2 linked regions of the Homo sapiens genome follow. The protein of the gene in region 1 interacts with the protein of each later gene in a biochemical or structural test. Each region holds a gene or a part of one and is shown on either strand. Other genes may lie near its edges. The genes, in order: AHR and DAP3.

Evidence for each region.
Region 2: the proteins of AHR (region 1) and DAP3 form a complex in vitro, tested with the Homo sapiens proteins (one study listed by BioGRID).

The regions. Positions count from the first base shown.
Region 1 is NC_000007.14:17,329,435-17,333,468, forward strand, and holds part of AHR (aryl hydrocarbon receptor), read left to right. Parts: intron 1-517; coding exon 518-641; intron 642-1,321; coding exon 1,322-1,452; intron 1,453-4,034. UniProt on the Homo sapiens protein: Ligand-activated transcription factor that enables cells to adapt to changing conditions by sensing compounds from the environment, diet, microbiome and cellular metabolism, and which plays important roles in development, immunity and cancer.
Region 2 is NC_000001.11:155,723,551-155,727,090, forward strand, and holds part of DAP3 (small ribosomal subunit protein mS29), read left to right. Parts: intron 1-1,831; coding exon 1,832-1,940; intron 1,941-2,376; coding exon 2,377-2,469; intron 2,470-3,540. UniProt on the Homo sapiens protein: As a component of the mitochondrial small ribosomal subunit, it plays a role in the translation of mitochondrial mRNAs. Involved in mediating interferon-gamma-induced cell death. Displays GTPase activity in vitro.

The sequences.
Region 1 (4,034 bases):
GGCAAGAGAAGGAAAGTGGGTTTAATATGGTAAAGGCACAATCCCTTGCTCTTGTGGAGTCTACTTGGAGTGAAAATTTTATATGAAGAAAATTTTAGAGAACAGTGAAGGAAATACATAAAGAATACCATTAAGCTTAGAGAAGTCAAAGAGGCCTGGGGTGGTTAGGAAAAGCTGCATGGAAGAGATAAGAATCTAAAAACTAACAAATGAATATGGAACATAAACAGATTTTAATATGTTGCATTTAAGGAATGGGGATGTGACTTATTTGAGCAAGAGCATTCATGTTGGGAACTGATGACAAGTAACTTTTGGCTTATCTGTTGTAGTGCCAGTCTCTTTAGCTTTTTCTACCTTAGGTTCTATCTTAGGTGACTAGGGAATTTTAGGAATCATTCAATTCGTATTCATCACCACTAGCAAGCACCCACTAATCTAAATAGGCTTTAAAATTAATTTAGCCATATTTTTTAATCAGTCCTTTTGTTGTATTCCTTGTATCTTTTTTCTTTAGTCTGATGTCATACATCAGAGTGTATATGAACTTATCCATACCGAAGACCGAGCTGAATTTCAGCGTCAGCTACACTGGGCATTAAATCCTTCTCAGTGTACAGAGTCTGGACAAGGAATTGAAGGTAAGAATTGATGGTACAAAAAATAGTGTTGGTAGTTTTTAAATATGAGTCTGTGAAAGGAGGCTGGGAACCTGTAGGGTCATAGAACTCCATGATAGGGAAGTAGTGGAAAGATGTAAAGTCTGCAATCATAGGCCACAGCTAGGTCACAAAGAGCCTGATGAGCTAAGGAATATTTTGGCAAATGAGAGCCATTTAATGAGTTTCAGGCAACAGAGTATTGCCATAGTCAGTAATGTATTTTATAAAAATAAGTAGTACCTTCATGAAAGATGGAAGGAAGGTACAAGGTTGATACCTGAGTGCATGTAAATTATTGTGTTTAAAATGCACCAAAGAAAAAAGTAAGCTAGCATATGCAAGTATAAAAATGCTTTTCTCAATGCAAAAAATGTTTTTGGAAATTTGTTAAAGTGTTAAGAAAACAAAAATGCATTAGAAAATATGAAAATTGTTGACAGTGATAGCTCAATAAAAATTTAAAAAATTATGCAAGTTCTATCTGATAAAAGTGATATTTAATAAACTTTTAGTTTCTTGTCATTAGCTCTTTTGAAAATGATTTTTTTGTATTCAGAACACAGACTCCAGTTTAGAAACTAATACAAATTTTACCTATTCAAGTGCTTAATTTTACAGCAAAATGGAAAGTAAATTTTGTTTTGCCTTTATTTCTACAGAAGCCACTGGTCTCCCCCAGACAGTAGTCTGTTATAACCCAGACCAGATTCCTCCAGAAAACTCTCCTTTAATGGAGAGGTGCTTCATATGTCGTCTAAGGTGTCTGCTGGATAATTCATCTGGTTTTCTGGTAAGGTACAAAATTTTATGATACTGGCTTTTACTATTGTTACAATAAAAGCTTGAGGCAAATTTAATTTAGCAAAATATAATTCAGCAGAGAACTATTCCCAAATCAGGCAACCCTCAGAACCAGAGAGCTTCAGAGAGCTCACTTAAAAACATGGGCTGGAGCATTTATGAACAGAAAATGCAAGTGAGGTACAGAAATGGCTTGATTGATTACAGCTTGGGATTTGCCTTATTTGAAGATGATCTGATTAGTTGGCCACCTGTGACTGACTGAGACTCAGCTATTTGGTTACAAAAGTTTAATTCTACTGTTAGGCTTTCCGTTAGCTTATATAGTAAATGAAGTTGCAATTCCTTGGTAAGGACTTAAGGAGCAGAGGCATCTTCAGCCCAAATTTAGTTTAACATTAAGTTATAGAAAAAACAAGCCAATTTTCTTTGGTTATCTTTGATTTCAGCTTTAAAAATCTGCTACCAAATAATTTGATAAAGGAAAGTAACATTTTAAAGTAATTATTTCTGATTTTGACTATCTTCTATAACTCAGAAAACTGTTCTTTAGGATATAGTAACAAAAATTGAGTGAAATAACACGAAGCCTTGTATTTTGACTATTTTAGGATTTTTAAGGTATGAGAGAATTATGTAGCCCTTTTTTAATAGGAGGATGCTTACCATCTTGGGATTGAATGCCTGCTAGACAGAGAAATTATGGCCTTTCCATATGTCTCAAATAACTGCCACATAGAAAAACGATTGTATATTCATGATTGTGGAATCATCATTTGATAGGAGATGCTGTTTTCTTGTTACAAAGTCTGAACACCTGCATAGGAGTTGACTGTAGGGAACAGCTTAGGATTCCTCAGAGTGGACTTGTCTGTTATCTCATTGTATCCTTAGCTCATGTTACCAAGTACAGGAGAAGAAAATACAAAGTATATTGTATATTCTTTTTGTGAATAACAAGGAATTTGAAACAGATAATCAAATCTTAAATTAACATTACCAAGCAATGATTTTTGTTTATGTGTTTATTTCTGAAGAGGATTTTGCTGACCCAGAATTAGAATTATGCTTTGAGACAGTTTTCCCAGTGTTATTGCTCATGAACAATTAGTATGTAGAGTCATGTCCTGCATAATGATGCTTTGGTCAATAACAGACCATGTATATGATGGTAGTCCCATGAGATCATAATGGAGCCGAAAAATCCCTATCACTTAATGATGTCATAGCATTGCTCACATGTTGATGGTGATGCTGATGGAAGCAAACCTGTGTTGCCAGTCATATAAAAAGTATAGCACATACAATTATATATGATACATAATACTTGAAAATAAAACAATAATAAATCACTATGTATTTACTATTAATCATTATTTTACTTTATTTTTAAATGTATTATACTTTTAATTATTTTATTTTAATCATTATTTTAGAATAAGGTTAACTGTAAAACAGGCTCAGGCAGGTCCTTCAGGAAATATTCCAAAAGAAGGCATTGTTATCACAGGAGATGACAGCTCCATGCATGTTATTGCCCCCGCAGACCTTCCAGTGGGACAAGATGTAGAGGTGGAAGATAGGATCATTAATGATCCTCACCCTGTACAGACCTAAGCTAATGTGTGGGTTTGTGTCTTAGTTTTTAACAAAAAAAGTTTAAAAAGTAAAAAAATTAAAAATTAAAAAATAGAAGAAAGCTTATAGAATAAGGATATAAAGAAAGAAAATGTTTTTGTATGGCTGTACACTGTGTTTAAGTGTTATTACAGAAGAGTCAAAAGTTAAAAATGCAAAAGTTTATGAAGTAAAAATGTTACAGTAAACTGTGCTGGGATTACAGGCATAAGCCACTGCACCTGGCCAAAAGGAAAATATTTTTTATAAATTCAGCGTAGCCTAAGTGTATAGTGTTTATAAACTCTATAGTAGTGTACGGTAATGTCTCAGGCCTTCACATTCACTCACCACTCACTCACTGACTAAACCAAAGCAACTTTCAGTCCTGCCTACCTTGTTTACAATAAGTGCTCTTATACAGGTATACCATTTTTTGTCTTTTATACTGTATTTTTACTGTATATTTTCTATGTTTAGATACACAAATACTTACCATCATGTTACAATTGCTTTAAGTATTCAGTACGATAGCATGCTGTACAGGTTTGTAGCCTAGGAACAAAAGGCTATACTGTATAGCTTAGATGCGTAGTAAGCTATACCATCTAGGTTTGTGAACCTACCCTCTGATGTTCACAGGATAATGAAATTGCCTAAGGACACATTTCACAGAACATGCCCCTTTTGTTAAATGACATGTGAGTGTATGTCTGAGGTGGAATATCTGTGTGCAGGAGGGCCTTTTCCTCCTTGTGCTGCTATTATTTTGATGTCAGAACCATCCCTTGGACTGGTTGATATTGTTTTAAGCAATTAAATATATCATGTTCATGTTTAAGTGCCTTTGTTTTCCCTGTCTTCTAAATTTCTTCCATATCTTTACTCAGTAGGGCTCTGCATTCTTTATATGTTTTCATGATGATTCATTTTAGTGTCTTAATAAAATTATAT
Region 2 (3,540 bases), on another chromosome or scaffold:
ACTCCTAACCTCAGGTGATCCACCTGTCTTGGCCTCCCAAAGTGCTGGGATTACAGGGATGAGCCACCACGCCCAGCCAACATTTGTTTTAATACCTTTATCATGTTTTTTTGAACATTGAGCCTTCCATTAAGTTTGGAATTGCCTGTCAAATCCTACACCAATTCAATTGTTTTGTTAGGATTTCTTTTAAAAATATCAACACTGGCTGGGTACAATGGCTCACGCCTGTAATTCCAGCACTTTGGGAAGCTGAGGTGGGCAGATTACTTAAGGCCAGGAGTTCAAGATGAGCCTGGCCAACATGGTGAAACTCCATCTCTACTAAAAATACAAAAATTAGCTGGGCGTGGTGGCACACGCCTGTAGTCACAGCTACTTGTGAGGCTGAAGCAGGAGAATCGCTTGAACCCGGGAGGCGGAGGTTGCAGTGAGCTGAGATCGTGTCACTGCACTCCAGCCTGTGCGACAGAGCGAGACTCTGTCTCAAAAAAAAAAAAAAAAAATTAACACTATTTTAGTTATACTTACAAACAGTATTTGTTAGATATTCTTATTAGTAGACATATTTTAATATTTTCTTTGCAAATCAGTTTCACACACATTAGTACTTCCCAAATTTCCCACCAAAGTATTCTGGTAGCAAAAGGGGAATTAAACTCTGAAAGGTTAGTATGCTGGAGGTATGAGGTATGGATGGCCTTAGAGTTGTGAGGCAGCTGGTCACACCTGCTCCTGAGCCGCCATGTATTTAGTTCTAGAGAAAAAAGTCTAAATGGTTAAAGTAATAAAAATAAATTTTAGGCCAGGTGCGGTGGCTCACGCCTATAATCCCAGCACCTTGGGAGGCTGAGACGGGTGGATCATGAGGTCAGGAGTTCGAGACCAGCCTGACCAACATGGTGAAAGCCTGTCTCTACTAAAATTACAAAAATCAGCCTGGCATGGTGGTGGCACCTGTAATCCCAGCTACTGAGGAGACTGAGGCAGAAGAATTGCTTGAACCCCGGAGGCGGAGGTTGCAGTGAGCCGAGATCACACCACTGCACTCTAGCCTGGGTGACAGAGTGAGACTCTGTCTCAAAAAAAGAAAAAAAAAAAAAATCAACTAAAAATAAATTTTAGGCCAGGTGCAGTGGCTCACGCCTGTAATCCCTGCACTTTGGGAGGCCAAGACGGGGGTGTCACCTGAGGTCGGGAGTTTGAGACCAGCCTGACCAACATGGAGAAACTCCTTCTGTACTAAAAATACAAAATAGCCGGGCATGGTGGTGGGTGCCTGTAATCCCAGCTACTCGGGAGGCTGAGGCAGGAGAATCACTTGAACTGGGAGGCAGAGGTTGTGGTGAGCCGAGATCGTGCCATTGCACTCCAGCCTGGGCAACAAGAGTGAAACTCCGTCTCAAAAAAAAAAAAAGAAAAAAAATTTAAAGAGTTAATGTTTATTGAATTATTAACTTGTGTCAGAAATTTTAAGCATTTTTCTATATGCTTTCCATATTTACAGTGGCCCTAAGTGGTATACATAATTTTGTTATGAGATATATCAATTATTTATAGATTTCAGCTGAGATAGAATATATGCTTCAGTAATAGGAATAATCAAAAGCTGACTATCATGTTACTTAGTGCGGAATAATGTATTTCAGTTTTTAGCTAAGTTATATGGATAGATTTTCAAACTCAGTACCAACCCAGCTTCTCCTAACTGAGTAAATTAGAGGCATGCAATCTGATGGTCTTGGTTGCCACTTTAGGCAGAGTATATATACCACCCCCCACCCACTCCTTCCACACCCACCCACTCTTTCCTTCTTTCCTACTTTATCAGGTGAAGACATTCAGTGAAGCTTGCCTGATGGTAAGGAAACCAGCCCTAGAACTTCTGCATTACCTGAAAAACACCAGTTTTGCTTATCCAGCTATACGATATCTTCTGTGTATCCTTTCCTGCCTGCGTGGACCCTCATGAACCAATGCTTTCTCCCCTCAAATAAGGCAACAGAAGAAATGAAAAAAAGTACTGTTGAGGCCGGGCATGGTAGCTCACACCTATAATCCCAGGAGTTTGGGAAGCCGAGGCAGGCGTATCGCCTGAAGTCAGGAGTTCAAGACCTGCCTGGCCAACATGGCGAAACCCCGCATTTACTAAAAATGCAATATATTAGCCGGGTGTGGTAGCGTGCACCTGTAATCCCAGCTACTTGGGAAGCTGAGGCAGGAGAATCGCTTGAACCCGGGAAGCGGAGGTTGCTGTGAGCTGATATCAAGCCACTGCACTCCAACCCCATCTCAAAAAAACAAAACAAAGCATAACTACTGTTCACATACAAGTGATCCTTCCAGTCATGTTTTCTTTAACAACATATACTTTAGATGGAGAGAAGGGAACAGGAAAAACCCTAAGTCTTTGCCATGTTATTCATTTCTGTGCAAAACAGGACTGGCTGATACTACATATTCCAGATGGTAAGAACTTCCTGTTGTTTCTTCTGTCTGTTAGGTTTAGTTATCCTGTTACTGTGGTAGCCTTGCAGCTTTAATTTTCTTTTCTTTTCTTTTCTTTTTTTTTTTTTTTTTGAGATGGAGTTTCGCTCTTGTCGGCCAGTCTGGAGTGCAGAGGCGCAATCTCAGGTCACCGCAACCTCCGCCTCCCAGGCTCAAGAGATTCTCCTGCCTCAGCCTCCCAAGTAGCTGGGATTACAGGCGCCCACCACACCACCACGCCCAGCTAATTTTTTTTTTTTTTTTTTTTTGAGACGGAGTCTTGCTCTGTCGCCCAGGCTGGAGTGCAGTGGCACGATCTCAGCTCACTGCAAGCTCCGCCTCCCGGGTTCACACCATTCTTCTGCCTCAGCCTCCTGAGTAGCTGGGACTACAGGCGCCCGCCACCATGCCCGGCTAATTTTTTTTGTATTTTTAGTAGAGACAGGGTTTCACCATGTTGGCCAGGCTGGTCTCGAACTCCTGACTTCAGGTGATCCACCTGCCTTGGCCTCCCAAAGTGCTGGGATTACAGGCATGAGCCATTGCACCCGGCCTCAGCTTTACTTTCCTAACAGGGATCTGATAGCTAAAGGAAAAGCCTTTGCCAGTCACGATGGCTCAAACCTATAATCCCAGCACTTTGGGAGGCTGAGGCTGGAATATTGCTTAGAGCCCAGGAGGAGGCTGCAGTGAGCTGTGATCGCACCACTACACTCTAGCGTGGGCAACAAAGCAAGACCCTGTCTCAAAAAAAAAAAAAAAAAAGAAGAAGAAGAAAAGCCTTTACTCCAGATGTAGAGCAGACTGAGCTCATCCATCATGATTTCTTCGTGATATTACTGCCAAGCAGATTATAAGGTGAAGTCAATGTGACAAAAGGAAATTCGGCTAAAAGCTTCCTGAAGCCTTTTGATGCTAAGCAGTCCTTCTTTTGATATTTAATACCCATGGACATAAACTTCTGCCTTAGAGGTCGCCATGGAGTTTTGTTTTGTTTTGTTTTGTTTTGTTTTTGCCATCTGTTAACAGTCCTGAGTACCCATAGAGCCTTTT